Linked DNA regions of Homo sapiens: all the other regions are linked to region 1. The links come from fine-mapping of genetic effects on gene expression. A gene starts in region 1. Each other region holds a variant in brackets. All regions are shown on one strand. Distances are from middle to middle. Region 1 holds the start of TSC1 (TSC complex subunit 1). Region 2 overlaps TSC1 (TSC complex subunit 1). Region 3 overlaps TSC1 (TSC complex subunit 1). Region 4 overlaps NTNG2 (netrin G2).

Region 1 (8,008 bases):
GTGTTTACAGACGGATGGCTTATATGCCTAGGATTACACATGAACTCTAGCCTAACAGCCATGGACAGCTGTCATTAGCAGGACCCGTACGCCATTTTTTTCACATATCTCTGCCCTAGCCAAGATGCATTATGAGCTGTGAGAGAGCCAAGAGTACACACAAACCTTTTGAAAATACTAGTGGCAGATACCTAAGATGTCTTTAGAATGGATTTATCTGAAATTACAGGTGAATATTCGAATTTTTCAAAAACAAGTGCTGTGATATGTGGCCTAGACACTACCCTCTACGACTCCTCAGGACTGTATGTAACATAAAATAGGTGACCGCATATCAATTTGCCTAAGATAATTTTGTACACATTTGTCTATGATGTAAAAATGTACTGCATGTGTAAATGAAGGCAGATGTCTCTTCACTATAACTTGTTTCCTATATTCAATTTTTTATCCATAAAAATTCAAGGACAATTCAGACACAGGTCCAGGCATGGATAGACTATTTTATTATCAGGTACAGTTAGATAGAGCAGAAATGTTACACTGTTAAGTTAATGTTCCGCTCTGGCTCAGGAACTCTCAGGTGACTTCTTAGGGTAATATTCTATCAAGTGAACCAAGACGCCTTCAGCACAAATGCATCTAAAAAGGGTAAGATACTTGCTCCCATTCTCTCTTCCTATCAGTGCCTAGAAGGAAGGAAAAAAGGGTAGGAAATAACTACTTACTATGTGAGAGTAAAACAGCTGATGGTAAAACCTGCCAACATGTGTAGTCATGTGTGATTGAATAGGTCTTAGTAGTTGGAGTCCCTCTCAAGGACAAACTGGGGCAGGAGAGCTCCAACTTGCCAGATTCTCCATTCAGAATTTCTGCCATCAGGGGCCTTGATGGATGGTTTGCTAAAGCTTATAGCCTATCCCAAAGGTGAAGAATCTTCTAGTAACTTAAGTGTAAGGCCAGAGCTTAATTTTGGTAAGGCGTATCTCTTCAATAAATAATGCTTACGTTTTGACTTTCTATTAACATGAACAACATTATTTACTAAGATAATACAGGCCAAACAGATACCATGTATATTTCAAAAAGACACTACGCAGAGCTTCTCCTAAAAGAGATACAAGCAAACTGTGAGATATCTTTAGGTTTCAGGTTTATAGGACCAAAATAGAAGTATTCTAGGGAAGAAGGGTATAGTTTGATAGTCTAGGGCAGTGGTTCTCAAAATGTGGTCCTGGCACCACGAGCAGGAGCCTGGGTATTTGTTAGAAATGTAAATTCTCAGGCCTTTCACTAGATCTCGGAATTGGATACTTTGGGGGTGGGGCCTTCTAGGTAATTCTGACGTCCACTAAAGGTTCAGAACCACTGGTCTAGGAAAAAGAAGGATGAAGGTAAAAAACATTCATTCATTAATATACCTCCTTTGAGGTTCAAAAGGAAAAAAATATATAGAGTGCATAAACCTTGGGGAAAAGGCCCAGTGGAATTCTGCCAGGTGCTAAAGGTACCAGCACAGACCGAATGCCAAGCCTGACAAGCACGTAGCAGGTTACATACCTGGGTACACTACAGAAATTTAACAAAGTAATTTATAACCCAGACAGTACATAAGGCCACCTTCTGACTTGGGCCTTTCCTGACTACTAGTTAAAAAAAAAAAAAAGTTTTTTAATAAAGCCTAAGTCCATTTTTAGAGCAGTAATCTATCTAAAATGATCAGCTGGGTTTCAAGCTGCGTCCATAAATTACCTGAAGCCATATCCAAAATCCCATGTCTGTATGAATTTTTTTGGTGATGATGGGACATAAAGGGTAGAAGAGAAATTTGGTCCATAGCTTCCCACAGATTTTCAGAGGGCAACTGAGTCCACACACCTTCCCACCACCACCAAAGTTAAGAACCACTGACCTGACCTGTGAGTTAATTTATGAGGTCAGCAGATGAAGCAGTTTATCACAGTGGAAGACTAAATGTTTGGGCTGTGGAGTCAACCAAAAAGGTTCATATCCCAGCTTAGCCACTGAATAAGTGACTATAGGCAACTTACTCTAAGCCTGCTTCCTCTTCCTATCCTGCCTCTTAAGGCTGTAAGAAGTTAATGGGGTATCAGACATGTAAAATACCACAGTGTTTGGCACATGAGTACTCAAAAAATATAAACTTTATTATAACAATATTACTACTTCACAAAAATGGATTGCTGGGTACATAATGCTTAGCAGTCTATCCATTTAACAACTGGTATTTGAAACATTGATACAACCATTGTATAACTTAAAATGGATACAGTTCAAGTTTGTTACTATGCTCTGTGAACTACTCAAAGTAGCAGAGTCTTAATGATTGCAGACATTAAGGTCACTGCCTCTGTTCTTCCTACAGCTCCCCTCTGTGTCTTCCATCACATCACCCACAGAAGGGCAAAACTGTCCTTTGTTACTCCAACACTTCTGGGCCTCTACTGCCATCATATTTACTTAAGAGAGTGACCTGTGAGTTGTAGGGCAGTAACTACTATGCTTTATTTTGGACTAAAGCATGGTTTTTAAGACATTTTACTTATTAGATGTAAATCTGAATTCATTCAACCGTAAAAAGTATTGTTATCTTTTGCTGATTCCATGTTCATAATAAAAGTTAGCACTGAACGAGAGAAAGGACAAGAAGAAACTGACAAGGTCCTGAGACAGTGTATTTTATACACAGTATATAAAATTTGCATTTTTATTCTCTCCCATGAAAACAGACATAAAGTTACTAATTTCTAGCAACTACAGTCTTAAAAAGTAAACCAGAGAAAGAATAATCTCAAACTGCTGACAGTTTACCTCTTTCAGATGAATTTAAATGGAGAATGAGTATTTCATGCTACCCAAATTATATTAGTTACCAATTCATGATCTGAGATTAAAAAAAACAAACTCAGTGTTTGAGTGTATACTACATATACACATTTCAAGCAAACAGCCACAGATTTTAACGCTATTAAGTACACTTTTCTTTCACGCCTTCAGCTACTTAAATGACAAAACCAATGCAAAGACTAACCTTTCAGAGATTTATAATATGGGAAACTTATAGGGAATTACCTTTTCAAAGAGTATTATGATGTAAAGGAAAGGATAAATGATAAACAGATCTTCACCCAACAGGGTAGGCTCAAAGTCACCAATTTGCTTGGTTTTTATAAAACCATTAACAGGTTGACTCAATCGATTTAGTCAGAATATTTAAATGACACCCCAAAGGACTTTAAATCACAGAAATGTAGGCCTAGAAATACTCATTAATTTACATTCCAACTTTTACTTCACAGATGAAGACACAGGCTCACAGAACTTAAGTGACCCACTGAAGGTCAAAAGCTATCTGACTCTCTAGAAAAGCCTGAAATGGTTGAGATATTGCTATATTTGGCTCATCGGCATTCAAGAATATCCAATTAATTCCAGGAAAAGCTAATTTTAGTTCACTATGGCCCTGGAACCCAGAAATAAACATACCTGTAGCCAAACAAACTTCAAATGAAGACAGAGCTATAAGAACAAGTCAGCTCTAATTCAGAGCCCAAAATTCACCCACCACTACACAAATAAAAGGCTACAAGCTATTTTAAGAAATACCTCTGTGATAAATAATAAATGAAAATAGCCAGAATGATACTTGAAGCCAGTGGTCCTCAACCTCCGGTGCACATAAGAATCAGTCTTCTTCCAAAATATATATACAAGGTGTCCGAATATGTAGGTCTACCTAGTATAGTGCCAAATATCTGTACATCAAGGTTCTCATGAGCACTAGGGTTTCAGATCTCGTTTCCACCAAGTTCATTATTCTGCAAACATTACATATAGAGGTATATATTAGATTTGCCCTAGTAAGACTGTTAAGTTTCATCTCACGAATGAAACCAGGCATGCACAGAAGGCATCATATTACACCACAACAGTAGCAGTATCAGTTTTTACTCTTAACCCAGTGAGGAAGAGGACAACTGAGTCACAGGACCTGAAGCACTCTAATTTTATGGAAACAAGAAGGCTGGTAGCCACCTGCTTTCTAACCAGGAATTTAGGAACGTACCAAGTGTTTATGACACCAGGAAATGCATGCAGCAGAGAAAGTTTACATCATCTGCCCTTCTAGGCACGTGATATAAGAGTGTTTTGGATAAGATATTAACTTTAGTAAGAGGATATTTTCCGTTTACATCTTCTATAAATACCCCTTAAGTTTACACCAGGTGGTTAGAGGAAGATTCTGCAGCTCCCTAGGGCAATAGCAAAGAATGTTTCACTGTTTCTGAGGAGCCTCATTTGCCTGATGCATGACTGTTAAAGGTGCATTTCCCTACACAACCCTAAATCAGTTTTCACATTTGCATATTCCAGATTTACTCAGGAATGTTCAATTTAAGAATCACAGGTGGTTGCTCGGTAAATCAAAGGCTCCCCAAAGATTAGGTTTTATAATGCTTCCTGAAATTTACAGCTCCACTTTGCCGGCCTGTTTGAATTCAGATGACTCCAAGTTGATCCCAAAATTATAAATCAAAGTATCTCAGAAGAGTATTATTCTATTTTAGCACTTTTATAGCTTACTCTATGCAACGTGAAGTGTTATTTGTATGCTTTCTATTTAAAAAAAAAAAAAAGCCAGCAAGGATTTTAGCAGGACTTCTTTCTTCAGTAAACTCATCAGTTTTATTAAACTATCAAATACTTTTTAGCCTAATTTAGACTAACAAGTTCACATGCACAACACTGCCATCCCAAACAAAAGCTAAGGCGGATAAGCCAAGTGCATCCCCCCACTTCAACATTAAACAGACACACGTGCATAAACCTTGGCTAAATGATAAATTTTAATCACTTACAGGCCAGCTTTGATCAAATAACAGATAAATTTAAGAGTCATATCTTTGGAGTCAGTCAGATCCCAGCAGTTCCAGTCCTGGCTCAGATACAATTGGGGTGTGAACTTAGGCAAAGTACCCTGCTCTCTCCGGGCCTCAGTTTCTTCATTTGAGAAGATTGGAGGTGTTAACAGTGGCTGCCTCTTCTCTTTGTCGTGAGGACCAAAGGAGATAATGACTGCCAAGCACTTTCACAGTGCCTGGCACACAGAGAGCACTCCATTAACGTTAGCTGTTGTTCTTAGGAGGACCGCGTCCCCTCCCAAGTCCTCACCACACATCCAAAACACACAAAGCAAAACTCTTTAACAGGAAACACAAAGAAAGAGCTTTAATTCTACAAGGTCCCTCCGATTGCAGGCTCTTCATCCTCCAGTTCCTCAAATGAATGAATGAACGCCTAGGAGGGGCTCTGCAAATAGCTGTCTCTTAGGAATCCCCTTTGCCCACTTTAAGGTAACTGTCTTTCACCACCAATTAAACACCCACAAGTACACCCAGAGCGAGTCATGCAAATTTCAGCGGAGACACCGAATCCAGGCGAGTCCTTGATCCCCACAGGCGACCTCCATTCATTCTCCACGCCCCTATACCCCGACCCCTCTCTTTAAGTTCTGGGACCAGCCCCACCCTCGCGACCCTTCCCCTCCCGCCAAGCGTCTCTACCCTGCCCTCCGCACCTAGCGTGAACCTGTCACCCCACCAAGTGAGGGACTGACGAAGGGGCCCACCTCGCCCCTGCCCGAGGGACCGAGGCCCAGGGTGCAGCCGTCCCCTCGGGGGCCAAGGAGGGGCGAAGTGCTCCGTCCGGCTCGCCTCTCCTCCCCAGGGACCCGCCAGTCCCGGCCGGGCCAGCCGGAGATAGCGTGTAATAAGAGGGAGGGGAGAGCTCTCCGAACCCCCCTTCCCCGGGATCCCTACCAAGCAAGTGAGTCTCTTGCTCCAGCCCCTCCGAGCCTCCCCGGCTGGAGTCATGGTGCCGGGGCTGCCCCAGGAAGCCCCCATAAAAAGGAGGGGGAGACACCCCCATACTCACCCACCGTCTCCTCCCCCTCAGCTGTTTACCTCACAGTCCCTCCAGCCTACAGGGCGCCGCCATCTTGGACGTACAGCACCTCCCCCGTCGTGAAAGGGCCAAGGCCGACGGCGGCCTCCGCCACGAAAAAGAGTCCCCCTCCGGACCTCCCCTCCTTCTCGAAAGGAAGGATAGACGGCCGCGCTCGGCAGCCCCGCCGGAAGGAAGAGGCTCTTCCACTCATAACTGACGATGTGGGTTGGACGAGAAAAAAAGTAAGGAGGGTTTTTATGGAGGGGGGCGGGGCCGGGCGGAAGGATCCGAAAGGAGGCTGCGAAGAGATCTTGTGACTCCGCGAAGGAGGCAAAAAGAAGGGCCGGCGCGGCGGGAGGAGCCACGCGAGAGCCCGAGGGGGCGGGGCGGGCGGTCACGTGACTGGCGGGCGGGGGGACGCGGCGGAGAGGCGTAAACAAGCTGGCGGCGCCTGGGTGTGGTTGGAGCGCCCTGCCCCTGCCCCCCGAGTCGTTTCTGCCCTTCGCTTGCGTGGCGCCCTCCGAGGGTCTCTCTGTGGGCGGCCTCAGAGCAGCGATCCTGTTTCCCAAGGAGCTGCTGGGGCCCGCGTGGGTGAAGGGCCTGCTTGGGAGCTTTGGAGTTGCAGCTCACCTGGGAAGGGGCGGAAAGCTGCGGGCCAGGGCAGCCCTCCTTCCTGGGCTAAACATTTTCAGAAGCCCGCCTCCGGGATTGCGGGGGACCCCCCTGGCTTCTGCCTTCAAGTAGCTCACACTTCACACCTACTCATGACATCTAGGGGAAACCAGCCCTAATAGGAGACAGCTTGAAAATCAGAACGCCTTATTCCGTTTCCTGCTGAAACAAGGCTTTAAGTCCTCCAAGCCTCAGTTTCTTCCTCTGTGAAATGGGCATAATGACATCTGTGACGTGAAGAATCAAGGAGATGAAGTATGGACAGCGTTTAGCCCAGAGTCCTGCGCCTAGTAAATGCTCACTCACTAGATAGGTGGCCTTTATTGCGAGGCTGAGTATGATGGGCTCCATCCAGCACGAACACAAAGCCCTGTGAGAGGAGGCAGAGTGAGATGAAGTCGAACTGTGGGATATGAAAGGCATTTTGAAGGAGTAGGCATCAGGTTGGGTTTTAAAGGAAATGTAGGTTTTGTGAAATACTAGGTCGGTGCAAAAGTCATCACGGTTTTTACCATTAAAACCGCGATGACTTTTGCATCAACCTAATAGAACCAGGCGAGGCGGCTCGGGAGAGAAGGCCATTCCAGGCAGAGGGAACCAAAGGAGCAAGAGCCTAGGGGCAAAAAAGTGTTGGGTGAGTTATGGGAATAACAGGTTTTGTCATGGGAACCAATTGGGTCACAGTGCAAGGCAGCCATGGTTAAGGGGGGCCAGGTGTGTGAGTAGCCAGCACCGTGGGTGCCTTCAGAATTCTGAAAAGGCCCTGGATGGTATCGGGTAGAGCCGCTGCTAGTCAGTATAGGGCCTTGGTGAGAATTAGAAAAATGGCACCCCTGGGCTGTATTTTGGCCCCTATCCACCAGCCCCAAACCCTCCTGGGCCCTTGAGCAGTGAACAACCTTTATAACCATACGTCTAGAGCCACGAAGGCTTAGGAGGGAGGTGAAAATTGAACTGATGATTCCTCTGTTCTAACACAGTCGCTGGGGGGAAGCTAAGAGTTCTAGATTCAAACAGACCAGAGTTTGAATGTAGGTTTCAGCCATCATGTTCTAACTGGATGAGCCTTAGTCTCCTCACCTGCAACATAGGGCTAATAATAATGCTAGTTCATGGGGATTTGGGGTGAAGTCAGTGAGTCATTAAGCTCTAAGTGGCACAGAGCCTACTCCAGTTAATGTTATTTTTGATAACTGTTAAGTGCCAGCTGTCAGCATCCATCACTTCCAGAAACGGGTCCACCAAACACTAAATTCTTCTGTGTCACCACCCAAGCATAGTCTGCATGGGGTCCAGAGATGGAAAGGTCGAGGGAAACGGGGAAGGGTCTGGGTTCTCTCAGTTCCACCAATCTGCAAACTACTTTACA
Region 2 (7,849 bases), 47 kb before region 1:
GTTTCATGACCAGAAGCCATGGGCACAGGTGCTCGGCTCTTCCAGGCAGGCTTCCCTTGTAGCTACAGCTACTCTTCCCTCAGGCGAGCAGATAAGGACTGCAGGACGGCATGGAAGAGACAGGAACACGCTCCCCTGGGCACATCGAAGAGTCCCGGACAGGCAAACAAGCCACATGGGACAAGGGTCACAGCAGCAGCCTAGGGGCCAGTCCTCGACCTAAACTTGTTCTTTCACCTACAGACAAAAGCTTAATCAAGTGCAATCAATGCCTTGGGATCTTTGCAGCAATCTGGGGGGCATGTGTCACAGAACTCTGGATGTAAACAGATACACAAACATCTTCAGACTGGATACATTTTTCCAATACTTGTTGCGGGTCGGTTTTAAAGCATGTACCCTGGAGAGTGAAGGTGCAGCAGATAGGTATACTGATTTGAGTCACTCCACACCAGGCAGCTTCCTTCTCCAGGTGGGGCAGAGCCCCCTGGGGGAACAACTCTCCAAGAGTATCCGCAGGAGGTGGGCGGCACCCCATCTCACCAAGGTCCTGGCCGGGTCTTCGCTCTGCCCAAACCCTCCTCCAGCCTGTGCAGGCCTCCTCCCACCTCTTAGTGCTTTCAGCGAGAAAAGGTGAGTCTCATTACGCAGAACTTTTGTTTGCTCTTCGGTTCTTTCCTTCTTCAAGTGGTATGCTCTACTATTTGGTAGAAATTCACATTGGCTTGTCACAGCACACTTCAGTTCTGCTGGCTACATGAAACGCATACCCAGTTTTCTATTCTTAACAGTGAGTCTGAGCCTCTGTGGTCTCAGAGATCCTTTCATCCCCATGACCATTTTATACATCCTCCCCTCAACAACTGCTAGAGTTTTATCTTTCCCAACAAATATACCAGAAACTATGTGTGCTGTTGCAAATGGGGACGGCCCAAGAGTCTGGAGTTTTGTTCCCTGCTGCCCTGCTTTTACCCAGTAATGTGCGGCATGGTGGGTGAATTTTTCTAATTGTCCTGGGTCGTAACAGTTCACCTTCTCAGAACAGTTTGGACTGTTTCCCCAACCATGTCACATAAGCTTTGGCTCACAAAGTAGCTCACCTCTCGCCTCTCCACTCTTCAAGCTTAGTAAGAAGATTCCGCAGCTTAGTCCCAAAGGTCAGGCAGTTTTCTCTCCTGAAAAACTCTGTGGACACACCTAGAGAGGTCACTGTCTGCCCACCTGCCTTAGTAATGCTGGTCCTAAAACTCATCTCCAAGGACATCTTTCACAACTTCTCCATCTAAGAAATGACCTTGACCTTCCTACCTTTGGGTTTGTTTTTTTTCTATTCATGACCACGTGTTTCTTCCAATCCCATAATAACAATTTTTATAGACTGTATAGCAGAGCCTTGTCAACGGCTTTTTGAAAATCCATCAAAGTTCTATCAGATGCAGATCTGTGTGTTTATTCACCTGCAGGGACTCCGGAGCTCATTTGCTCTGCGTCTTCCTATCCCCCTCCCCGCTAAAACTGTAGTGCACCTTTTTAAAGGAATTCCATGCTGCACAGCAGCAGACTTCGGGCTCCTCGGGGCCTGTGCTGACTCTGGTTAGTGTCAGGTGGGGATCCGAGTAGGTTATGCACATTGGCCAAACAGCTGAGACAGGTATGCTCACCCATAGTGATTTCTGGATGGAGGCCATCCAATCCCAATATTTATGAATACCAAGCTGCTTAATTGGTTTCAAGGTAGACTCTGCCCTTAACGCTTATTGTACTAATACCTTTGCCCAGGACTGAATTGCCTCTCGAGAGTAATACTGTCACCTTTCCATCCTTAGAACTACCCACTGCAGCATGATCAAGTGACCTGTTGACTCTTGGCAGGTTTATCATGTCCAAAACCAAACCAAACCTAACTACTGACTCTGGAGTTCTTTGCAACATGAAAGCCTACATTTTTAGGTTGGGCACCTTCAACATGACTCCAGGTCTCATTCTCCCAACCGTAGTTGAATAAAACCCACAGCCTCCTAGAACTCAAAGGCACCTGAGCTTGGAGCCACATTTGTTATAAAGCTGAGTAAAAGGACACCCAGGCCGCATGGATGAGCTGAGGACCCTGTGCAGACACGTCCATGGAGCTTCTAGCACAGGCCTCTCTCCATGCTGCCTCCTTTCTTCCCTTTATTTTTATAAGCTGTCCGTTTCTAAAATGTTTTTTCTTTTGCACTTGGGCCTCTTTTCCTTTCCAATTCAGGAAAAGGCTTTAAGTGCCTGGTATCTTGTTCTATGGCACAGATCTCTTGGGCATGAGGAGAAGGAAAGCACTTAAAACCAGTTTCAGGATTCACTGATGGGATTTCCTTCCCTTTCTAAGTTTGTTCACGTTTTCCTTTTCTAAAACGGAACCAGGAAACTAGACTGTATTGGGTTTTAAGCTTTCCTTTGGACAAAGCTGAATTAAATGTGTGGTGTCACTAATACTCCACATCTGACAATTCAGTACCAACTGCCAGCCTGTGCTAGGCTGAGTAGTTGGGACCACGCCCTGCCACAGGCTGGGAATCAGTCACACCCAGAAAGCCTGCCTGAACAGGTTTTCTGCTGGTATAGCTAGGGTGACAGAGTCTCTAACTGTCTAGTCCCCTTTAGTTAGGGATGCTAGAATATTTATTGCCATGCTAAAAAAAAAAAAAAAAAAAAAAGACTTTCATTCTCTCTGCTCGAGGCCTCCGTGGGCACTAAGATTTCGTACCGTGACAGTTTTTTACCTCTTTATGACTGAATCCTTCTATTCTTTTTAATGAAAGATAGAAACAGGAAAGCCAAGTTCACTGGCTCCTTCCTACCAAATCCCCCTGCCTCAGCTGGAACACCAGACCACAGTTCTTAGGCTTCTAGCGTTTCTTTCAGGAGCACTTGTTGAGTTTGGATTCTCTGCCACTGCCAATTTTCTGACTAGTGTCATCTCTCGGGAGCACGTGGGGCAGCCTAGTGGGTATACACAGCCAGCCTTTGCCAGCATTCTCCCGGACTCTGTTTAGACTGCTCTGCCATTACTAACATGGAGAGTGTGATGACATCAGCTCCCTGGAGAGTCAGCCCCTGAAAGTTGGAATTGGTATGAAAAAGCTGCCCCTCTTCTGGTAGCCTAGAACCTGCTACAGTGAGGCAACCCTAATGGCCTGGGAAATGATGGTCACATACACTTTGCAGAAACTCTTTGGACCTTCAGAGCCTTTCTGCTGCAGTGTCACATATAAGCTGACATGAACAAGAGGCGTATGCACACAAAGGGAGGCCAGTAGACAGAAGGGTTTAACAAAAGGCCCAGCAAGCTGAGATGGCCTAAAGGTGCAGTTCCTCATGCTCAAGTGCTTCTCGGGTAACCTCTCCCAGTGACTGCTCCTTCCCTCCTATGGAGAACAGGTTTTACCACCTACACACCAGCCTGTGGTCACAATAGTACCAGCATTCAAGCAAACACCAAATAAATAAGAGGTAGTGGGGGAAGAAGAGACAAGAGCTTTCCCAAAGGGTGTGTGGTCTCCACAGTGCCAGCTCCAGATTTCTGAAACAGGCTTCTGTTTACACAGAACTTTCTAGGAAGCTTATCAGAACTGCCAAAAGAATGCAAGTATGAATAAACCGTTGTTCTTCTAGACCTGCTGCTTTAGATGCTGAACTTCAGAATCAAAAAAGCAGTCGGAAAGTCTCATGTAAACGCTTTCATGTAAAGACAACCAGCTTTGCAGGCTATGTCCTCCTGGAAGGGACAAAACCAGACTTACCTGCAATGCAACAAACTACCTGGTCTAATTGAGAGCCAACCCAGTTATCTGAACTTCGGGAAAGCAGAAAGTGGTGTGTTAGACTCAAAGATTAAATTTGGCCTCATATTGCACAGGTTCAAAGGACGCAACCATTTGGGGGGGAAAGGAAGAAAGTAAAGCTACTGAGGAACACCAACTGGCCCTTGGATTAGAACACACTGCGAGGTAAATGAGAGGGGGTTAGGGCGGGTGGAGGGGAAGGTCAAGAGGCATTTCAATGCCAGATCCAAAAACCGTTCTGCATTCAGTCAGCTGTCCAAAGGACCTCCGTCCCATTTCCACACATGAACTTGCACTCAGACCCTGGAAACAGGAAAGCTTTGAAACGTGCATTCACACCTCCTGTTCTGTGCCAACAATATGCAAGTTAACACTGATTGACCATCATTCCTTAGCTGTGTTCATGATGAGTCTCATTGTAGTCCATGATATGTAGCTGTCCAACACTGTCCGGGGTCGGGGGAGACGGGTGAGGGCCATCTAGGTTCAGGGGAATCTTGGCTTCCACACCCAAGTCTTTGCCCAGTTCTGTCTTTAGGCTCTCAGAAAGGCTACTGGTCATGCCGTCCTCATCACACTGGCTCTCGCTCTTATTACGAAATAACTCTCGAGCCTTCATACCCAGGAAGCTTTTTGAACTGGGAAGTGAGCCCACAGTGGTGGGGATGCTGGCAGACGCTTCTCCCATAGTCGTCTCCCACCGACTGCTGAATGGGCCTGCCCTCTGGTGTGGGGGTTTCTCTGGGGTAGAAAGCTCGCTGCTGCTGCTGCTGCTGCCTCCACCACCTCTGCTTCCACTACTGCCCCGGGCGCTGCTGGGCCTGGGGGTCTTGGTCTCACCGTTGTGGCCAGATGCCTCTTCATTGTGCCCTACCATGGAATCTGAGCACCCGTCATTACAACAGTCAAGCCTGTAAGAAAGCCGGGGAGGAAAAAAGGAGCTGGTGATTGGACTGTCCACATTCGGAGGATGTGGAATTACACTGACACTCACTCACACTGACACTGAACTCCGCTAGCCCACTCTCTGTTTTATAATACTGGACTCAAGAGATCTCATCAAGAGAAACCTAAATCACAACTAGGGATAGTAGGTGGCAATCTTAAGTGTGAACACTTCCTGTGGCCATATGGAGGGACTCAAGGCCAGGAACACGAACACGAAGAGATCACTGGGCGTTTTGAGGAAAGGAACGTCAGAGTGGGTCTCTGACACGGAGTGAGCTGAGTGTTGCAGCCTGTCTAGTCAGCAGTAACTGCTTCCCACACCACGTGACACAGTCCTTATGCTGGAATTGGCAGCTTAGTCCCAAGGTCATGAATCAGTTCTTTGTTCCTACCTTTCTTCTGCTGCTTCAGCTGCTTCTGCTTTTTCTTCTTCAAGTTTTTTCAGGAGGCCATCTTTCTCCAACCTGCCATATAAATCTAAGATCTCCAATTCAAACACCTGGGTTATCCTTTTCTGAGCCTCATACCTGCTCTCTGC[G/A]GCCTGCAGCTGTCCTCTGAAAGATACAGACCAGCCAGAATATAGGAAGTTCCACTTAATAAAAACACAAAAGCCTTTCCTGATGAAAGTTACCTTGCCTGGAGTTTGACATCCTCTAGATATTTCTTCTGTTCCAAAAGAAGGTGGTCTTTCTTGGCCAGGTGAGATTCCAGTTCCAAAATCCGTTTTTGGGAGGTATCAAGCCTCTGAGTCTGCTGGAGAACATGGCTTCTGTTTTTTTCTAGCTCTTTCCGATAGGCGGCTTTCATCATTTCTACTTCCTGAAAAAAAAAAAAAAAAAAGACTGGAATTAGTACTTATAAAAAATAAACATGCTGTATCCATTTTGAAAAGACAATGTAAGAAGGACTGAGAAGGCATTTTAGTATACTGATAACAGAAATATAAACTAGTACAACTTTATGGAAAGTAAGCTGGTAGTATTATCCTAGTAACCCTTCCTTGAAATCTATCCCCAAGCAAATCATGTGAAACATAAATAGAGATTTTGCACAAAAATAATCATCACAGCATATTTATAAGAGCAAAAACCTGGAAACATCGTTTAAGTCTAATGTCAGGGGAACAGTTAAGTAAATTAAAATACATCCTATATTTCTAAGTCTTTTTAAAAAATGATATGGTGTCAGTAAAAAGATTAAAAAGCAGACTACAAGACTGTGTGAATAGTACAATCAACTATGCGAACATATACATATACAAAACACCAAGTGAAAATACGCCACTATCCAGTTATCATTTCAGTCCAGTGGTACCGCAGGTCACTTGCTTTCCTTTCTCCTTTTCTCCCCCTCCTGACAATAGCGCAGGTGAGGCTACAGAATGGAATGCCAATGGAGCAGGTCTGCTCAAGCAAAGCAGCCTTTGCAGACTGGATGCCCTGACAAGGTTTGTTGATCGTGCTAAGGCAGATGGCCTGCTGCCGACAGATTGGAACAGCTTGAAACCCAGAGCAAGTACACACTAATGCTCAGAAAGAAGGCGGAAAGGGTATTTTTTTAAGCCTGTGTTACATTTGTGTGTGTATGTTTACCGTGGTAAAATATACAAAACACAAAACTTGCCATATATTTGTTTTTTAAAAAAGATAATAAACCATAAACAGCAAGGAGATGAGCTTTCACGAAGGCGCCCTGCCTTGATGCTGTCTGGTAAGCCCAATGCTTCCTTGTTATAGAACGCAACTGATTGAAACTCAGAACTGGCTCTCGGATAATGCGGCTGTTCCAGCTGTGCTAAATGGCTCGACTTCAGCACAGGGTGGATGAACGCATCTATCTGGCCTTCGTCATAAACAACAGGACTTATTCATGGATAATCATGCAAAGCATTGAACCAGGAACATCCGTGCACTCTCACTAATCCTTACAGCTACCCCTACCAACTGTTCCCACCTGATTCCCCACCACTCACTCTTCCTCCTCCTTTGGATGGAACAAGAGCAACCCTAGCTCCAGGTTCAGGAGCAAATCCTGACTGGGTTGAGGCAATGACTAGGCTAGGGATGGGCACAGGACAGGCCTGGCCAACAGGGGTGATGAGAAGTATGGTGGGATCATCTGGGAAAGGTTTTCTTTTCCTTTTCTTTTTTTTGGAGACAGAGTCTTGCTCTGTTGACCGGGCTGGAGTGCAGTGGCGTGATCTCGGCCCACTGAAACCTCCGCCTCCGGGGTTCAAGCGATTCCCCTGCCTCAGCTCCCCAAGTAGCTGGGACTACAAGTGTGCGCCACCACACCTGGCTAATTTTTTGTATTTTTAGTAGAGACGGGGTTTCACCATGTTCGCCAGGATGGTCTCGTTCTCCTAACCTCGTGATCCACCCGCCTCGGCCTACCAAAGTGCTGGGATTACAAGCATGAGCCACCACGTCCAGCCTGGGAAAGATTTTCTTGCTGAGGAATAGGAAGAGATGCTCTCCTCTTCTGTGGGGACATCATTGTGTCTGCCTGTCATATCTGTGCCTGTGGCACACACCTGGCAACCATGAGTGCAGCTAGCTGGAAGACAAGGTCTGCAGGATAAGCAAGGCAGTGCAGAAGAGTGGAAAGAGCCTGGCTCCTCGATGCTGTCCCTGAATGGCCAACTTGACCAACCTGGAACTCACCTGCCTCACAACCTCTTGTCAAGTGAAACAATACAGTTCTTCACTGTTAAGCCAGTTGAGTGCTTTTTGTTTTTGTTGTTTTTTTGGATATTGTTAGGCTTGGTCTAGAACTTCTGAGCTCAAGCAATCCTCCTATTTCAGCCTTCCAAATAGTTGGCACTGTAGGCATGTGTCACCGTGCCCAGCCCTAGTTTGGTTTTTGTTGTCTACAATTGAAGGCATCCTGACTATCACAACTCAGCTGCATCACCCGTTTTATGAACTGGGAAACAGGGCCCCATGGAGAGGCAGCTACTCAAGGTCCCAAACAGCACAAGGACTCCTTGGAGGCCGCCCATCTAGGCTTCTCTCAGGAGATGGCCCAGGCACGTTTCAGCAGCTTTTTCAGGAGCTCTCTTGTGCCTCGGATCTGTTTCT
Region 3 (5,000 bases), 31 kb before region 1:
CTTGGACTCCCAGAGTGCTGGATACAGAAGCAAGCCACCACGCCCAGCCGCAAAAAGTAAACGTATGTTGACAGACTTTTCAAATAATCATCTTTGTTATTACACCAAAATTTGATAAGTGTTAGTTTCTTAAAGTTACAAAGTGAAATTTGAAACCACATCAATGAGCTTTTCCTGTGTTAAAACCCACTAGTCTACCTTGCACTTTTTTTTTTTTTTTTTGTGACAGTCTTGCCCTGTTGCCCAGGCTGGGGCTGGAATGCAGTGGTGTGATCTCGACTTACTGCAACCTCCGCCTCCTGGGTTCAAGTGATTCTCCCGCCTCAGCCTCCCAAGTAGCTGGGATTACAGGTGCCTGCCACCATACCCGGCTAATGTCTATATTTAGTAGAGATGGTGTTTCAACATGTAGGCCAGGCTGGTCTTCAACTGCTGACCTCAAGTGATCCACCTGCTTCAGCCTCCCAAAGTGCTGGGTTACAGGTGTAAGCCACTGCGCCCAGCCTGCTTTGTACTTTGAATGTACTTTTTACCTATGCATGATTCTGCAACGTATCATACATTGGACACTCTGAAAATATTGGCTCCTCAAGCTATTCAAATATTCCAAATGTTGAAACACTTCATTATACAATATCAAAAACTCAAATTACTAACTAAGCTTCCACAGACTTTTCGGTCTCATCATAAAAGTCCTGGGGCAGCTATCAAGTTCATGGTAGTATATACACGTTTTTTAATATCTTGATTTCCACCTGAGAGTTGACTTTTATTGTTGGCAACAAATACTGTCAGTTGTTTATCTTGAAGTGACAGACTCAGCTCATCATTTGAGAAGCTGCCTGCCAAACACCCAAGTCTGAATAACCAGTTTGTAAGACAGCAGTTCTTTCAAATAAAACTGGCATTCCATGAAAAAAGGCAGCTACTTCACCTCTCAATTCAAATAACTGCATGAGGGCCAGAGGTCACCATCATACCCTGGTATGCAGTACATGTGCCTTATGCATATTTTCTATTTTGCCACGAAGAATATTACACATACATGTTCTCAAGGGCTAAGATTTAATAAAATTAATAATGGTTACTGCTTAATACAGAACACTCAACTTTTAAAATTTTTTAGTTTTTATTGTTTTTAATGGAGAGAAGATGTCAGGGAAGAATGCAAGGCCTCTTGGGATAGGACACTTCAATGCCTGCCTTGATTCAGGCTAAGTTGCCACCATTTCACCCCCCGTCGTATTTGTGCCATCATTGCAGATGCCAATGCAGTGGGAAGGGCAAATGACAGCTTAGTGTTACTATGAAGGTGGGTTTGGTCAGGTGTGGTGGCTCAAACCTGTAATCCCAGGATTTTGGGAGGCCCAGGTAGGAGGATCGTTTGAGTCCAGGAGTTTAAGACTAGCCTGGGCAACATAGTGAGACCTCATCTCCACCAAAAAAAAAAAAAACTTAGCCAGGCATCATGGCACATGCCTGTAGTCCCAGCTACTAGCGAGGCTGATGCAGGAGGATTGCATGAGTCTGGGAGGTCAAGGCTGCAGTGAGCCATGATCGTGCCACTGCACTCCACCCTGGGCGACAGAGCAAGACCCTGTCTCCAAAAAAAAAAAAAAAAAAAAAATCAAGAGAGTAGGTTTGACCTGCTGGGTTCCCCACAAGAGTTCTGCCAAAGCAGAGTTTTGGAACCACCCAGGGGTCGGCAGATCACACCTTGAGAGCAGCTTGTTAGTCCATTTTCAATTATTCTGATTCAAACCCATTGCATTTTAGGTCAGAATTCTATCTGGCATAATTAGGCTTCTCAAAGTGAGGCTTGCAAGTGAGTCACTGTGCCTGGGCAGAGGGATAGCAGACGAGCTGGATCGCACCTTCCTGGGGGGTGTGACTGTGGCCTGGGGGAGTGAAATGTGCACGTAGTCATCCGAATGACAGAGTGGGGCTGGAGGAGGAGAGGTTGCTGGGGTTCCCAGAGGAGTTCCTTTTCCACCTGCTTAGAGACAAGGGCAGAACATATATGAACACTGAGCCCAACTATTAGAAAAACTGCCGATTTTTTTTCAGCCTATAACTATTACTATAAATAAAGCTGCTAGAGTTAACTTTCTGGGGATCTAGATCAGTCTCTCTCTTTTTTGTTTTTAGGTTCACTTTACACATTCTGAAAGCCCCAGGGATTTGCAATAAGTGTCAAAAACAAGTTTACAACAGCAAGTGGTCCCTTAGATCTAAAAGAGAGCTCCTCCTGCCATTAAAGGCAGGCCAAAACCAACTAATCAAATCCAACCTAAGACATACATACCAGTTGTACCAAAGACTTTACTGTAAGGGTGTGACAGATCAGGTGGGACATTTCCAGGAGAAGTTGGAGGAGTGGTCATACCACAAACCATAGATGGGCTCCAAAGAGTAGCCTGGGAAGTTAATAAAGTACATCAGCAGTGGCAAAGGAATGCTAAGTCATCCACGAGGTTTATATCCATGGCC[A/G]GTGTTCAGCTTAAATTTAGCTTTTTCATCTAGAAAAAGGCATCTTATTAAAAGCGTATCAAGAAACAAGTTGCATTTTGTAAATCAAGACTTCAAGATGAATCTAAGAGGCAACAGTAACTTTCTTTGCTAATATCATGGATCCTTAAAAGTGACTCCTGAAATGAGCAGTGTGAAATTTTCCCAACCACATACTAAATCTGACCCAAAGGGTCAGCTTCACCAGAAAGCAGAGGAGAGAGCAGGCACACTAGTTGACACCATACTTGTGGTGGTTCAGTTATCAGCCGTGTCGATGGGGAACTCAGAGTCTGAGGTAGCTGCCCTGGCATATTTAACAACATCAGCCGAGACGTGGAGTAAGGGGTAGAAGTAGCACACCCTAAAATGGAAGAGAAGAACACAGGGGGTTAGTGTGTGGTTTTAGGTTATTCTGGTTAAAAAAAAAAAAAAAAAAAAAAAAAAAAAAAGATGGTCCTCTAGACCATTTGATAATATTCAATTCTCTGTACCTAAAAAATCTGAGGGACTTAACTGACATCCTTGGGGACAAAGTAACACTTCAGAGTTTCTCTAAATGCTCCTTTGAAATAAAGTTCAATAAGGTTTGATGTCTCATTAAGCCTCAAGATAACTTAAAAAAGCACAATACAGATGACAACTTCAGTGGCTGCAACCCACAAATAAAGCCTAGATTTTTATATGAATCCAATTCTAAATTGTTCCGACTCATTCAAACTGTGTCAGTGCTACAGACACAAGAGCCTCACTCTAAATGTCTGAAAATCAGAAAGATTCCCTTATGAGGTAGAGTCTGGAAGTCAAATACTTAAACCCATTTTCTTTCTTAAGTGTTGGAGACACGTCACCAACTCTGTTGGCATACAATCAGGTAGCAGACCAAGGACATCTAAATTAAACTTGAAGGAGAAATTAATTAGAAGAAAATGGAGGGACATGCAAATTTAAGATATTTTGGGAAAAATCCCTAGGAACTGAACTAAGTCTTACTCCAGAAAAGAAAATCAACAAAGACAAATAATGTTTTCCAGAGACAAAGTTGCAAAACAGATAAGTACCAAAGACACTTTTTACCATAGCTATTCTGTGTGTCAGCATAAGGGCTGGTGGTGACATCGGCTGAACGATGAGGAAAGCGGGCTGAGATTTGGTGAGACACAGAATAGCCATCTTCATATGAGGCTTCTGTGGGATCCAGAGAGATTTTGGCACACTCGATCACAACATCATGAGTTTCTAATCTCTTCCACCTGTAAAATGCAATGAAAGTCAAGAAATGCAAACTGTAATCAACTGAATTAAATACTTCAGAGTGTCAACTCAGTGCCAGCCACGGAACTCTGATAGCAAAGAACAAGCGGGACCATGCCAGCCCAAGTCTGAAACAATTCTAGTACATAAAGAAATAGCCATTCATTTTACAATCCTATACCTTCCCTGTTTAAAATGGTTATATCAAGTTTACAAGCTAATCTGAAACAAATATTTCCTCAACAAAAGACTAGGTGTAGCCTCAAAATGGAAAAATGAAACATAAGCTATGCAGCAGAGCAGCAGGCAGGGAAAAATGTCCTTTGGAACAAAGGTCATCAAAAAATAGGGAGACCTGGAGACTGCCAAGCAGCTGAGGCTGACTTAAGGTCTCCTATCAAGGCCTCAGGTGTCAAATCCATCCCTGGACCAGAAACAGAGTATAAAAAGACAAACTAAAGAAAGTCCATGAGAATTTTTTTCTTTTTTTTTTTTTCTTGAGATGGGGTCTCACTCTATCACCCAGGCTGGAGGACAGTGGCATGATCGTGGCTCACTGCTACCTCCAACTCCTAGGCTCAGGGATCCTCCTGCCACAGCCTCCCAAGTAGCTGGGACTACAGGCACGTGCCACCGTGCCTGGCTAATATTCTTACAGAAATGGGGTCTCACTTTGTTGCTCATGCTGGTCTCGAACTTACTGGCCTCAAATGATCCTCCCACCTTGGCCTCCCAAAGTGCTGGGATTACAGGCATAAGCCATGACCATGCCCAGCTGAAGGCATGATTTTTTAAATCAACGTGTTAGTATGGCATAATTTGCTTACAATAAAATTAGTCAATCTTGCTAAGTTTTGACAAAAGTCCCGATCATAATAAAGAACATGTCCATCACCCCAAAAGTTCCTTTGTGCCCTTTGTGGTGAGTCTCTTCCCCCACTTCTTGCAACTATCGATCTGCTAAAAGCATGCTTTTTCAGGGGGTGTAATAATAGTTATTCTATAGAATATAACCCTTTGGTTGAACTTTGGGTTATTTCTTCTTTCCATTACAAGCTGTGCTGTGCTGAACACTGTTGTATGTCTTGACGTACATACAGAAGTGAGCCTGTAATCCCAGCACTTTGGGAGGCTGAGGCGGACGGATCACAAGGTCGAGAGATTGAGACCATCCTGGCTAACATGGTGAACCCCCGTTTCTACTAAAAATACAAAAAATTAGCTGGGCGCGGTGGCGG
Region 4 (8,251 bases), 690 kb before region 1:
ACCCGGAAGTGCCTTCCGACAGGCCCTGCATCCTCCTGCAGCTGGCCCATCTCTACCCTCACATTCTTCCTTACGCACAGAACCCCACTGCCTGGGACCCAAAGTGCCCAGATAAAATAAAACACCTCTCTGGGGCTTCTTGTGGATAGGAGTGGCCAGGGGACACAGCTCTGGGCAGTGAGATGTAAGCAGGACTGATGGGTGGGCTTCCAGAAAGTTCTTAAAAGTCATCCCTTCCTCCACGCCCCACAAAGCCTCAGTTGTCCAAGTTTGTGGCTCTGGTTTTTCTCTCTCATCCCTCCCTCTGCTCTTCAGTCAGCAGGATGGGGAAGGAGCCTTCTTGAGACACTGAGCATAACAGTGTCACCCTCAGGATAGTGAAGGGTGGAGCCGGGGGTGGAAGTTGCAGAGCCTGGGACACCTGCCTTGGCTGCAACCTCTGCACTGCTTTTATTTATCTACTTATTTTTATAGAGTTGAGGTCTCACTATGTTGCCCAGGCTGGTCTCAAACTCCTAGGCTCAAGTGAGCCTCCGGCCTTGGCCTCCCGAAGTGCTGAGATTACAGGCATGAGCCACCGCACCACCTGCCTGTCTTACTGTGTGAGAAAAAAAATAAACGGTGATGTGATTAAAACACTAGAATTTGGGTTTTCTGTTCCATGCACACTTTCCAAGTTCTTGGCCCTGCCTGATTGGCATCCGGGCCCCCTGAGCCCTCTAAGGCCAGAGAGAGACTGAAACCCACCCTTCCTTGGCCGCAGCCCCCCATGGTGACCCTCAAGTCACCAGGAAGAGGAATGTCCATGACTCAGGCCGAGGAGTCCACCTCTGTCCAGAACAGGACTGCCCCTGCCTTCTAGTGAGCACAGGGCAGCTGAGCAGAACTCACCCCAGAGAAACAGCAGCGCTGGCCGCAGTCGGTAAACAGCAGGCATTTCCTCCTAGTCATCAAGATGATAAAATGTCACCTAGAAGCAGAACTAGAGGCAGAACTTGAGACAGGGACAGCAGGGCCCAGCCCCAGTGGCCAGCCCTGGCCGGATCCACGAGGCTGGGGGCCCTGGAGCGTCAATGACATCCCAGCACTGTTCTTGTCTGGAGGCAAGTGGGCCACCCTCTGTCAGGCACCAGTGCCAGGCTGGCATGGGGGCTGCAGTAGAAGCCCCTGGTGCAGAAGGTGGGCGGCTGGGGGCTGTGAAGAGGCCCACACGGTGGTGCAGAGGGCATGCCTCTTTATGTCACCCTGGGTGTGTCCCCGAACACCCTCGAGGGGTCTGGGAGGTGGGGGGCCTCTGTGGGCAGTCACTCTGTCCTCCTTGACCTCCGTCAGCTGGGCCCACACTGCGTCAGCTTTTCTGGCACCGGCCTGTGCATTCAGGGCTGGGGAGGTGGAGCTCTTTGTAAATCAGAATGGCAGCCCCAGTCCCCGGGGACACACTCAGGCCCTGACCTCCCCGGAGGGTGGAGGGAATGTTGCCAGTGGCCATTTGGAAAAACTCTGACATCTTCCAGGCAGCAGGAGGAGAAAACGAGGTCAGCAGAGCCAAAAGTCCTAGGCCATCCTCTTTTCAAATGGCACACCCTTGTCCCCAGAGCTCATATTTTGACACCTGGTTCTGGGAGGTGAGGAGGAAAAGGCTCCCATTGTGCGCCTTGGATCATCATCACCGCATCCCCAGGCGCTGCGCTTACATTACTGCATCAACCCTCACCTGCACCCTAGGGCAAGGTTTTCAGCCTCAGCACCATTGACCTGGGGGGCTGGGTAATTCTCCATGGTAGGGCGTGGGGGCTGCCCTGTGCACGTGGGATGTGCAGCACCATCACTGGCTTCCATGTGGCACTTCAATGTGCACCGTCCCCAGTTGTTGCAACTCAAAGTGCCTCCAGTAATTGCCAAATTGGGGGCAAAATCGTCCTAGATTGAGACTCGCTGCCTCAGGAGGAAAGGATGGTCATGCCCATTTTACAGAGGGTAAGTGAAGGCTGGGAGAGGCAAAGTCACTTGCCTGGGGTCACAGTTTCTAAGAAGCAGAGAGGAGAGTTGAACCCAGGGCTGCCTGACTCCAGAGCCCAGTGTTTCACCCCCAGGCCAGGCAGCCCTGGGCAGGCATTGGGCATCCACTCCCCGGCGGGCGGCTGCAGCTGCCCCCCCACCTCCATGCCTCCAGCTGCCTGCCTCCTTTGGCGCCCACAGCCAGGTCAGGCTGAGCAAGGAACCCTGGGGAGCCCAGCTTCCTCTGAACCGCTCTGCTGTCAGGGGAAACGCCTCCCCTGGCCCTCTGCGGCAGCATGGCCTGTCCCCTGCCCCCACCCACTCCCCTAAATAAGCAGAATTGCTGCGTCGGCATTTCCTGCCCAGCTCATGCCTTACAGTTACGAGGCATTTATGGGAGCTTGGGGAGCAGCCAGCAGCATCTCCCGGCAGACCTGAGCCCGCCTCCCTGTCTCCCCAGGGGCCTGGTCCATCCCGGCACATCCCAGCCAGAAGAGTTAAGGGAAAGGCCCCAGGAAGAAAAACATTACTTATTTATTTTTCCGTTTAAACCACCTGTCACAACTTGTAGGAAAGTTCGAAAATACAGAAAAGCAAAATCATAATAATTTTTCTATTAAACTCACCCACAATTCTTCATCCAGAGCTAATAACTGTTAATACTTTTTTTTTTTTTTTTTGAGACGGAGTCTCGCTCTGTTGCCCTGGCTGGAGTGCAGTGGCACGATCTCGGTTCACCGCAACCTCCACCTCCTGGGCTCAAACCATCATCCCACCTCAGCCTCTGGAGTAGGGGGAACTGCAGCTGTGCACCACCACGTCCAGCTAATTTTTCATATTTTTGGTAGAGGCGGAGTTTTACTATGTTTTCCAGGCTAGTCTCGAATCCCTGGGCTCAAGCCATCCTCACTCCTCAGCCTTCCAAAGTGCTAGGATTACAGGTGTGAGCCACCACGTCCAGCATAACTGTTAATGTTTTCTGATAGATATTTCTAGTGTTTTTCCATAAAATAAAACCCACACTCAGACATCGCCCCCCACCCCTGCAATTGCTAAGCCCTAGCACTGAGGCTGGACATGCCTTATTTCAAGGGTCCCTTCAGTGATGCTGAGCGTGGGATCAATTAATATAATATGGCCATCTTACAGCTCCACATACCAGGGCTCTGAAAGCGTCCTGGCCAGGGACCTTAGCCACAAGCACCGAAACAAAACACCAGGTGATTTAAGAGGCAGAGGAGATTAAAGGATCACAGACCCCTCAGACACATGTCAGGAGAACAAGGTAAGAGTAGGGAAAGTGGGCCACGCGGTGGCTCACACCTGTAATCCCAGCACTTTGGGAGGCCAAGGCAGGCAGATCACCTGAGGTCAGGAGTTCGAGACCAGCCTGGCCAACATGGCGAAACCCCGTCTCTACTGAAAATATAAAAATTAGCCAGGCGTGGTGGTGGGCACCTGTAATCCCAGATACCTGGGAGGCTGAGGCAGGAGAATCCGTTGAACCTGGGAGGTGGAGGTTACAGTGAGCCGAGATCGCGCCACTGCACTCCAATCTGGGCAACAAAGCAAGACTCCGTCTCAAAAAAATAATAATAATAAAAATAAAAACTAGCTGGGTGTGGTGGCAGATGCCTATAGTCCCCCCCCCAACTTGGGAGGCTGAGGCAGGAGAATCCCTTGAACCCAGGAGACGGAGGTTGCAGTGAGCCGAGATCACGCCGCTGTACTCCAGCCCGGGCAAAGAGCAAGACTCCGTCTCAAAAAAACAAACAGCTGGGCTCAGTGGCTCATGCCTCTAATCCCAGCACTTTGGGAGGCTGAGGTGGGTGGATCACCTGAGGTCAGGAGTTCGAGACCAGCCTGACCAACATAGAGAAACCCCGTTTCTGCTAAAAATACAAAATTAGCTGGGCATGGTGGTGCATGCCTGTAATCCCAGCTACTCAGGAAGCTGAGGCAGGAGAATCGCTTGAACCTGGGAGGCAGAGGTTGCAGTGAGCTGAGATTGTGCCACTGCACTCCAGCCTGGGCAACAAGAGCAAAACTCCATCTCAAAAACAAACAAAAAAACAAAAAAGAGGAGGTAAAGTGGAGTCAGGAAGGGCACCCAGTATCCCGCCCAGGGTGGCTGGAGAGCCAGAGCTTCAGATGCTGCCTTGGGCGCTGCCCTGGGCACATCCCTCACCCCCAGGGCTACCC[C/T]CTGCTGGCCTCCCCACCACAGCCCCCACCACGCACCCGCACCCTCCAGTCCAGCATTTGCCACTCCAGCAAGGGGGGGTGGGCTCTGTTTCCTCAACCAGAGGAAGAAAACAAAGAAAGAATGTCCACCACGGAGCGGGTGTGTAAGTTGCCCGGGGTCGCACAGCCAGGAAGAGCCAGAGGCCAGGATTCAAATGCACTCTCTTGGGCAGGCTGCACAGCCCTGCACCTTTTTTTATTTTATTTTTTCCCTTTATTTATTTATCTTATTTATTTTTAACAACAATGGCCTCATCGTATACACATCCTTCTTTAGCCTGCTATATAAAACTTAGCACTGTATCTAGACTATCAAAGGAGGCCTTTTAAAATAAAAGAGAGGCCGGGCGTGGTGGCTCACGCCCACAATCCCAGCACTTTGGGAGGCCGAGGTGGATGGATCTCCTGAGGTCAGGAGTTCGAGACCAACCTGGCCAACAAGGTGAAACCCCCTTCTCTACTAAAAATATAAAAAATAGCTGGGCGTGGCTGCAGGTGCCTGTAATCCCAGCTACTCAGGGGGCTGAGGCAGGAGAATCGCTTGAACTCAGGAGGCAGAGGTTGCAGTGAGCTGAGATCATGCCATTGCACTCCAGCCTAGGTGACAAGAGTGAGACTCCATCTCAAAAATAATAATAATAATAAAAGAAAAAAGAAATGCAAGGCCAGGCACAGTGGCTCATGCCTGTAATCCTAACACTTTGGGAGTCCAAGGCGGGCGCATCACTTGAGGTCAGGACTTCCAGACTAGCCTGGCCAACATGGCAAAACCCCGTCTCTACTAAAAATACAAAAATTAGCTGGGCGTGGTGGCAGGTGCCTGTAATCCCAGCTACTCGGGAGGCTGAGGCAGGAGAATCGCTTGAACCCGGGAGGCGGAGGTCGCAGTGAGCCTAGATCATGCCACTGCACTCCTCTGGGTGACAGAGGGAGACTCCGTCTCAAAAAAAAACAAAAAGAAATGCAAAGCCCCACCTTTCATTTTTTGCCCAGCCTCTCACCCTCTTCCCCTCCCAGCCTGGGCCGGCTGGCAGTGGGACTCTGGCTCCCAGGGCAGGGGGTTGCCATGTACCCTTCTGACACCTCAGGGTCTGGCCCAGTGCCTGTGCTCCTGGTGGCACAGGAGACCTTGCTGCCCCACAGGGGCGGCCAGGTGGAGGCACCTGCGGCCAAAGTGCTCCAGATGGCTTCCAGCCAGAGGCTCTCTCCCTGGATGATGGAGCAGGTGGCCCTTGGGACCCAGCCAGGAGTAGCTGGAGTGAGGCCCAGAGTCCTGGGAGCTCGTGCCTTTCACTGCTGACCCAGTGCCCGCATTTCTGCCCCTGAAGGGGAGGGCAGCTCCTCAGGCAGAAGGACGGTGAGCTCTGGAACCTGATTTGGGCTTGAAGCTGTACCCCACACCTGCCAACTATACATCCTTGGGCAAGTTCCTCAGTCTCTCTGTGCCTTGGCCATCTCATCTGTGAAATGGGGATGTTAAAAATAGCGCCTGCAGGGTGGGGCCGTTGTGAGGAGTGAATGAGTTGAGCCGCGCAGTGTTTAGAACAGGGCCTGGCACCAAGTCAGCCATCCCTAAGTGTCAGCTGCTGTGATTGCTTTGTTTCCTCTGTGCCCCCTCCCCAAAACCTGCTAGGAGGGTTCAGGCTCACTCACACCTCCTTTCTCACTCATCATATTCCTGAGCACCTCAACGTGACCAGCCTGGCCCAGTGAACCAGACAGACACAGGCTCTGCCCTCCCGGAGCTCCCGGTGGGCCCCTCGCTGCCACCTGCCTTACACACCAGGCAGGATTGAGATTCTTTGTAATCTGCAGAGGGGCCCAAGCTTTTGTGCCAACAAGAAGGACCAGGAAGACTCCCGAAGCCCCTGCCCACCCCACCACCCTCACCTGGCCAAGCCCGGCCTGACTCAGCAGGCCCCAGAAACCTCGGTGCCTGTTCCTCAAACACCCGGACACCTCCTTCCCCTTTCCCCTCCTGCCCACAGAGGGCTTAAGATTGGGGATGGGGTTGTTTGGGGGGTAGGGGATGAGGGCAGAGGGAGGCTCACAGGACTGGGGAGGTGGGGCGTGAATGGGACAGTTGGGAACCAGGAAATGGAGTTTCCAGCGCCCTTCTAGCAGGCACAGCTGACTGTGCCACCTGCCTTCAGAGGTCTCCCCATGCCCAAGAAAGGACGCATGGGCCCCCTGGCTTGGCCCAGCAGGAACATGAGGGCCAGGCAGGGCCAATTCCCAAGAAGCTGAGCCTGCAAGGGACCCGTGGAGAAGATGGGCCTATAAGTTGAGGACGGGGCTCCTGGTGGCCCCCACAGCCCAGGCCAGGCTTGCAGTGCTGGGGAGTACAGGCCTGGACAATGCCTTTGACGGGGTGGCTTTGAGACCTGTGACTCGAGTTTTACACAGCCAGGCAGCGCTAACCCCGGAGACCAGGATCCCGACCTCTGGGTGTCAACACGGCGCCCCCTGCATTTCCAGGGCTAGGACAAGAGCACAGATGGAGGCTCCTGTACCACGTGTCTGGATATTTAAAGCCGCCCATCAAGCTGTTGAATAAAGTTCAGCCAGTCCTAGACAAGCAATCCCTTCACAGTGACCTGAAAGGCTGGGCTCAAATCTGTACCCTTGGACTCCTCCAGCTGTGGCCAGCACGTGGTGGGGTGGCTGGGCCTGGCTTCCCCAACCAGTCACCCTACCCAGGCTCTGATCCTGGGTGGCCTAGAAGGAGTGTGCAGGCTCTGGGGGGCACGCCCCTTAAGCCCATGGCGGGGTTGGGGAGGCCCTGAGCAGGGCTGGAGATACCCAGCCTCACCTCCTGGGGCCCCCTGGGGCCACAGAAGCTATCAGGCAGCCTCTGTGACCCCTCTTGGAAGACCGGCCACAAATACCCACAGTCCCATGGTGCACATAGGGGCAGAGCTCTGGGGTAGCAGGAAACCTATGAGTGGAGACATTTGGGCCCACCCCCAGCCAGCCAGCTGCCTGCTTGGCCAACGGCAAATGTGTACTGCTGTGCGTGCCACGCTGGACAGCCCTGTGCCAGCCACTGGGGCAGCCAAGGGAAGTCTTGAGTGAGAAGCAGCCTCAGTTCAGACTGACGTGTCAGGGGGACGTAAGCCCTGGTGTTGCTGGTTCTTTAGATCAGCATTTCCCTGGGGACAAGTTTCGTGGAAGACAATTTTCCGATAAATAATCAGAGTGGGGGATGGTTTTCAGGTGAAACTGTTCCATCTCAGATCATCAGGCATTAGATTCTCATAAGCAGCATGCAACCTAGATCCCTTGAATGCACAGTTGACAATAGGGTTCATGTCCTATGAATCTGGCAGGAGGTGGAGCTCAGGCAGTGATGCTCACTTGCCACTCGCCTCCTGCTGTGTGGCCCCATTCCTAGCAGGCCATGGACCGGTACTGGTCTGTGGCCTGGGGGTTGGGGACCCCTGCTCTAGATGTTTCAAGAAAAACCAGAAATCTCAAGTTTAATGTCAACCTTTGGATTTTCAAACATTGACAACTACCTTGTCTATCTTTAAAATCATGGGGACCAATTCTTCAAAAAGTCAAACAGAATTCACATAAGATCCAGCAGTTCTGCTCCTAGTACAGGTCCTCAAAGAATGGAAAGAAGGTATTCAAACAAAAGCTTGTACACAAATGCTCACAGTGGCACGATTCACAATAACCAAAGGCTACTGGGAAAACAGCACAAAAGCCACATTTGGGAAATAAATTGTCCATCAACTATCCATCAACTAATGAATGGATAAACAAAATGCTGTACAGCCACACAGTGGACTGTGATTCAGTCAGAAAAAGGCATGAAGCACTGATACACCTACGATGTGGGTGAACTTAAAAACATTATGCCGGCTGGGCGCGGTGGCTCACGCCTATAATCCCAGCACTTTGGGAGACCGAGGCAGGAGGATTACCTGAGGTCAGGAGTTCAAGACCTGTAGGGACCAGCCCTACAGGATCTGTGGGTTTTTCTCCCTGTGTGGAGAGATGAGAG

The links.
Region 2: its variant is fine-mapped to the expression of TSC1 in whole blood (TOPMed, PIP 0.96).
Region 3: its variant is fine-mapped to the expression of TSC1 in whole blood (TOPMed, PIP above 0.99).
Region 4: its variant is fine-mapped to the expression of TSC1 in visceral fat (GTEx, PIP 0.96).

The regions. Positions count from the first base shown.
Region 1 is chr9:132,938,588-132,946,595 of GRCh38, forward strand. It overlaps TSC1 (TSC complex subunit 1), which reads right to left and starts at 6,029. Exons shown (of 23, transcript NM_000368.5): 1 at 5,956-6,029. MIR548AW (microRNA 548aw) reads left to right here and starts at 7,120; the gene lies at 7,120-7,184. It also overlaps a transcript of GFI1B not described here. RefSeq lists silencers at 5,637-5,696, 5,757-5,816, 6,347-6,426 and enhancers at 5,901-6,634, 5,947-6,246, 6,607-6,746.
Region 2 is chr9:132,892,023-132,899,871 of GRCh38, forward strand. It overlaps TSC1 (TSC complex subunit 1), which reads right to left. Exons shown (of 23, transcript NM_000368.5): 21 at 5,401-5,588; 22 at 5,162-5,323; 23 at 1-4,732. The coding sequence ends at 4,213. Among named protein-coding and RNA genes, the nearest start is that of SPACA9, 17 kb to the left of the region's middle. The variant G/A (reference allele first, on the strand shown) is at 5,308.
Region 3 is chr9:132,908,697-132,913,696 of GRCh38, forward strand. It overlaps TSC1 (TSC complex subunit 1), which reads right to left. Exons shown (of 23, transcript NM_000368.5): 9 at 3,586-3,761; 10 at 2,757-2,872; 11 at 2,306-2,417; 12 at 1,875-1,996. Among named protein-coding and RNA genes, the nearest start is that of SPACA9, 32 kb to the left of the region's middle. The variant A/G (reference allele first, on the strand shown) is at 2,491.
Region 4 is chr9:132,243,891-132,252,141 of GRCh38, forward strand. NTNG2 (netrin G2) reads left to right here. Exons shown (of 8, transcript NM_032536.4): 8 at 1-636. Among named protein-coding and RNA genes, the nearest start is that of NTNG2, 86 kb to the left of the region's middle. RefSeq lists enhancers at 1,130-1,635, 1,636-2,141. The variant C/T (reference allele first, on the strand shown) is at 4,201.